Linked DNA regions of Homo sapiens: region 1 is linked to region 2. Evidence: fine-mapped expression QTL. A gene starts in region 2. The other region holds a variant in brackets. All regions are shown on one strand. Distances are from middle to middle.

Region 1 (2,500 bases), 22 kb before region 2:
CCCCAGCATCGAGGGTCACTTTGTTTTTGGGTCGCGAGGTTCCCTCTGTGGCAGATGGGGCTGTGGGTTCAGCATGTCCTGGGTTCCCCAGCATCGAGGGTCACTTTGTTTTTGGGTCGCGAGGTTCCCTCTGTGGCAGATGGGGCTGTGGGTTCAGAATGTCCTGGGTTCCCCAGCATCGAGGGTCACTTTGTTTTTGGGTCGCGAGGTTCCCTCTGTGGCAGATGGGGCTGTGGGTTCAGCATGTCCTGGGTTCCCCAGCATCGAGGGTCACTTTGTTTTTGGGTCACGAGGTTCCCTCTGTGGCAGATGGGGCTGTGGGTTCAGCATGTCCTGGGTTCCCCAACATCGAGGGTCACTTTGTTTTTGGGTCGCGAGGTTCCCTCTGTGGCAGATGGGGCTGTGAGTTCAGCATGTCCTGGGTTCCCCAGCATGGAGGGTCACTTTGTTTTTGTGTCGCAAGGTTCCCTCTGTGGCAGATGGGGCTGTGAGTTCAGCATGTCCTGGGTTCCCCAGCATGGAGGGTCACTTTGTTTTTGTGTCGCGAGGTTCCCTCTGTGGCAGATGGGGCTGTGAGTTCAGCATGTCCTGGGTTCCCCAGCATGGAGGGTCACTTTGTTTTTGTGTCGCGAGGTTCCCTCTGTGGCAGATGGGGCTGTGAGTTCAGAATGTCCTGGGTTCCCCAGCATCGAGGGTCACTTTGTTTTTGTGTCGCGAGGTTCCCTCTGTGGCAGATGGGGCTGTGAGATCAGCATGTCCTGGGTTCCCCAACATCGAGGGTCACTTTGTTTTTGGGTCGCGAGGTTCCCTCTGTGGCAGATGGGGCTGTGGGTTCAGCATGTCCTGGGTTCCCCAGCATCGAGGGTCACTTTGCTTTTGGGTCGCGAGGTTCCCTCTGTGGCAGATGGGGCTGTGAGTTCAGCATGTCCTGGGTTCCCCAGCATGGAGGGTCACTTTGTTTTTGTGTCGCGAGGTTCCCTCTGTGGCAGATGGGGCTGTGGGTTTCGCAGATGCGTGGAGTCACATCCATGCCCTCAGTCCTTAGGGACCGACCCTCCCTGCCTCACACGCCTCCCAGGAAGTGTGGCCGGGGGCCGGCAGTGCCACGGCTCCCTCCCCAGCAGGCCCCGGCCGCTCCCATCCCCAGCACGTGGTCCTATCAGAACGCCACGTCAGCAGGACTCCCAGCAGGTGGCCTTTAGGTCTGGCTTCTTTCACTTGGCAGAGCACACTGAGGTCTGTCTAGGCTGTCGCATGGATCCCGGTCCCACGTGCTGAGCAGCGCGTTCCCAGCTGTGGTTGCTGCAGGTTGAACTTTTCCTGGCTGCAGGCGTCCGTGCAGCTTCTGGCCGTTGTTTTCAGAGCTGTCCTATCACACGCACTGTCCTATCATGGAATATGACGCCGTGTGGGCCACAACTCAGGCCCAGCAGCCCCCAC[C/T]CCCGTGCTCTCTGGCCTCCTGCTCAGTTCCTTTGCCCCCAGGGGCTTGGTGCAGAGTTGAAGGAATCTGTGTGTGTGAACACACAGGACACTAGAGCTGTCAGTTCTCGAGACACCAGGTGTGCGCGAGGTGATTCCCATGGACCCTGAGGGCTGGTGATAGACTCGGGTCAACGGGTGGGGACCGGGTGTCTCAGGCCCCAGGCAGGCCCGGCCCTTCCTGACATGACACCCCTTCCCCCAGATTATCCCTGGCGCTGGAGCCGGGCCGTCCCCATGAACTCCGCACTCATCAAGTGGCTGTACCTGCCTGATTTCTTCCGGGCCCCCAACTCCACCAACCTCATCAGTGAGTGCCCCCCACCACCCCCGCCTCTGCAGAGGACCCTCAGAGTACATTCACGCCCCCAAATCTGCTCACAAGTGTGCACACAGGCGTGCACGGGCGGAGGTGTGGTCAGGCACATGGCGGCCTGCAGGCCCTGACCTCGCACGCACGCACGCAGACCTCAGCCTGTGTGCACGGCAGCCCTTGTGCAGATGCCCTCACACCGGGGCTCCCCCAGGGACACCCGGCCACTCACCCAGGCAGACGTGTGTCCGCTCCCAGCGGCTGCACGCCGACAGGCCTGGGGTGGGAGGTGGGATTTATGCGCCGTGCCCACCTCGTGTGGGTCCCCGTGTGGCACAGCGGCGGCTCCTGTGTCCTGCAGGCGACTTTCTCCTGCTGCTGTGCGCCTCCCAGCAGTGGCAGGTGTTCTCAGCTGAGCGCACAGAGGAGTGGCAGCGCATGGCTGGCGTCAACACCGACCGCCTGGAGCCGCTGCGGGGGGAGCCCAACCCCGTGCCCAACTTTATCCACTGCAGGTGGGTTCCACGTCACCCTCCACGGGGAACCTTCTGGGAGGGGTGGCCGGGGCGCCCGCCCTGACGCTCCGGCCTGGCAGGTCCTACCTTGACATGCTGAAGGTGGCCGTCTTCCGATACCTGTTCTGGCTGGTGCTGGTGGTGGTGTTTGTCACGGGGGCCACCCGCATCAGCATCTTCGGGCTGGGCTACC
Region 2 (3,012 bases):
CTTGAACCCAGGAGGTAAAGGTTGCAGTGAGCTGGGATCATGCACTCCAGCTGTTGCACTCCAGCCTGGGTGACAGAGGGAGACTCCATCTCAAAAAAAACAACAACAACAACAAAAAAACCACGCACCACCACTGGGAATTAAGAGGGCTAAAAGGAGAGAGACCTGGTCCTCCCTTCAGGGAGCTATGAGTCTAGTGGAAACAACTGAACAATACAATGGCTACAAGCCAAGAAAGACATGACAAGCGCCTGGGGGAAAGCTAGAGGTCTTCCAAGCCTCTATCCTGCCACAGATGAAACAAGCATCTCACACGAGATTAAAAACTTTCACCCAGACCATCTGCCAAGTTCCCAAGATGCTCTGATCCGCCCCTAGATGTATTCCAGCTGCCCCCAAACGCCTGGTCCTCCTACAGCTTATCCCAGTCTAGACACCACGGCCCCACTTCCAACTGTCCCCATAAGTTCCATCAGAAACCTCATCAGGGGATCTGTGGCTAGCTCATGGGAAACTTTCCCAAGCAGGAAACCAATGCTTTCGCCTCCACTTCAACACCAGGGGCACGAGGGACCCCATCAGGAGCAGGAATAAAGTAAGTACATGTTTTTAAAAAGAATTAACAAAGCATCACAAGTTGCGGCTATCCTGTCTGCTAGCGAGGCCATGTTTGCCAGGGTCTCAGCCACCTCCAGGCCTCACCTGCAGAAGGCATCTCCGGCTCGTATCACCACAACGGGCTGCGCTTCCTTGCACTTCACACACTTCTGCTCACGGCTTTGGAGATGGGAGGGGGGAGAAGAGAGAAACACAGATCACATCTTCCCCACGCCTAGTGGGCTTTGGGGAGACAGCTCCTGTTTCTCACCCTGAGTTGGGTCAGAGAAAGGCACCTCGGTACACACACAAACCCAGGCTTGTGTTCTGTCCAAACTTCAAGAAAAACAAAGGCTCTGGGGGGATGTTTAGCCTAGAAAAGCCGGCTCAGGGGGCACATAAAGGCCGCTTTTCAGTCTCCCAAGGCTGACACGGGGAGGCGAGACAGCTTCACGGCACCAGTTCTCTCCGAATAAGGACAGCACTGTCAGCGGCAGAGCCGTCCCCAGTGGCTGCTAGGATGAGAGGCGCGAGCCAGTGGAGTAAGTCCCCTTCTAGGTGGCCGTCACCGCTTGACAGGCATTCCCCGAGTGCTAGGGAGCGAGGTCCCGCTCTCCACGCGGGGCTTCCCGGAGCAAGCCCGGCCGGGACCCTTCGGGGCAGGAGTGCGGCGGGAAGGCGAGGGGCGGCCTGGCGGGTCCGGCCGCCAGCTCTTACCTGGGCCGCGGCGCCGGGGGCGGCTCCTCAGGCGCCGGCTCCCCGTAGTCCTCGCCCACCTGACACATGGGCACGCCGGGTCCCGTCGCAGACTGTGGCGGCGACAGCGCGAGGGCGCGCCCCGATGACGTCGGAGTGGCGCCGTGACGGCCGCGAAGCCCGGCTGGGGGCGGCGCCCTACGATGACGTCAGCGCGGCGCAGTAGCGGCTGTGACTAGCGGGCCGGCCCGGGCCAGGACAGCGGGCGGCGGGCGGCGCGGGCCTGGCCCCGGGATGGCTATGTTCCGCAGCCTGGTGGCCTCGGCTCAGCAGCGGCAGCCGCCGGCCGGGCCGGCGGGCGGCGACAGCGGCCTGGAGGCGCAGTACACCTGCCCCATCTGCCTGGAGGTCTATCACCGGCCCGTGGCCATCGGCAGCTGCGGCCACACGTGAGCGCGCCCGCCCAGGGGCCGCGGGGAGGGGGCCGTGCCCCGCCGCGGGAGGGGTCGCGAGGCCGGCGGCCGCCCCGGTGCAGCTCCGGACTGGGCGCGCGGGGACTCGGGGCGCCGGGGCCTCGGGGCGCGTGGGGTCCGGGTTTCCCTGTGCCGCGCCGCCTCTGCCCTCTGGGCGCGTTCATCCCCCGCCCAGCCTCCTTCGCGCCAGCCGCAGGCGCCCGGTCCGACTGCTGCTTCGGTTCACCGGGCGACCTGCGGCCCTGCCCAAGCTCGGGGTCCCCGGCGGCTGCGGCGGGCGCTCCGGTACTCAGAGGGCAGCAGGTGCCACCGCTCCGCCAGTGGTGGTGGATTTGGGCTTGTGCGGCTGGAATGGGCAGTTGTAAATAAATAACTTGTAGTTTTTGCTATCAACTCTTGTTCGGACCCGCTGTCTGCCTGTTTTGACTACAGAGGAAAGGAGTTCCCTAAAGTTTAGAGGGGCTTGTTTGGAGTCTGATGTTCTTAGTTTTGTTTGAAGGAGAACTTGAGTCACACCGATCACTGAGTAGCCAGGCAGGCTGGTCCACAGAGGAGCAGACACTGACCACCTTGCTGGGGTTTCCAGCTGCACCAGGGCTCACAGCCGGCTCCTCCAGGGTGTTTCAGGAACAGAAACTGGAGGACGTGGCTCTCCTGGCGGGGAGCTGTGCTCAAGTATTCTGGAGCTGCCAGCCCCGTTGGGAGGAAGCCTAGATCAGTGTCTGCTCCCTCCTAAGTGCTGAATAATACAGCTCTTGAGCAAAATCAGCAGTGGCAGGGGAGAGAGAGAGCAGGAGGGCTTCCCCGCAGACATCCAAGCTGCTGAGGTGGTGGAGTGGAGGGGGGTGCACCCAGACTGGTAGGAGGCTCTAGAACATTTTGCAAGCAAAGTCAGCTGACTTCAGGGGCTCCTGGTACAGAGGGAGCTGGGACTGCTAGGTGGATGTGTGCTGGTCACCCACGGAGGTGGCAGGGCCAGTGTCAGGATGCAGAGCTGCCTTCATTACCTGTGTCAGGCAGCACAGGCGCCTGCCCACGCTGGGACAGCTCTACCTACTTCTCTTGTGAGGCTGCTACAGGCTCTGCCCCTGCTCCTCCATCTCACTTAGCCGTGACATTTTGGGGGGGCAGCCTCTGAACGGGAATATTTTTTTTTGAGACAGAGTCTTGCTCTTGTCACCCAGCCTGGAGTGCAGTGGCGCCATCTCGGCTCACCGCAACCTCCATCTCCTGGGTTCAAGTGATC

The links. PIP is the estimated chance that this variant, and not a neighbour inherited with it, causes the effect. A credible set is the group of variants that fine-mapping cannot tell apart.
Region 1: its variant is the best candidate, but not a certain one, in a credible set for the expression of RNF166 in skin (TwinsUK, PIP 0.73).

What each region holds. Positions count from the first base shown.
Region 1 is chr16:88,726,846-88,729,345 of GRCh38, reverse strand. It overlaps PIEZO1 (piezo type mechanosensitive ion channel component 1 (Er blood group)), which reads left to right. Exons shown (of 51, transcript NM_001142864.4): 23 at 1,685-1,789; 24 at 2,154-2,307; 25 at 2,388-2,500. Among named protein-coding and RNA genes, the nearest start is that of HSALR1, 3.1 kb to the left of the region's middle. The variant C/T (reference allele first, on the strand shown) is at 1,441.
Region 2 is chr16:88,704,901-88,707,912 of GRCh38, reverse strand. It overlaps RNF166 (ring finger protein 166), which reads left to right and starts at 1,505. Exons shown (of 6, transcript NM_178841.4): 1 at 1,505-1,742. The coding sequence starts at 1,588. It overlaps CTU2 (cytosolic thiouridylase subunit 2), which reads right to left and starts at 1,410. Exons shown (of 15, transcript NM_001012759.3): 1 at 1,315-1,410; 2 at 703-777. The coding sequence starts at 1,382. RefSeq lists silencers at 1,142-1,451, 1,492-1,771 and an enhancer at 1,393-2,030.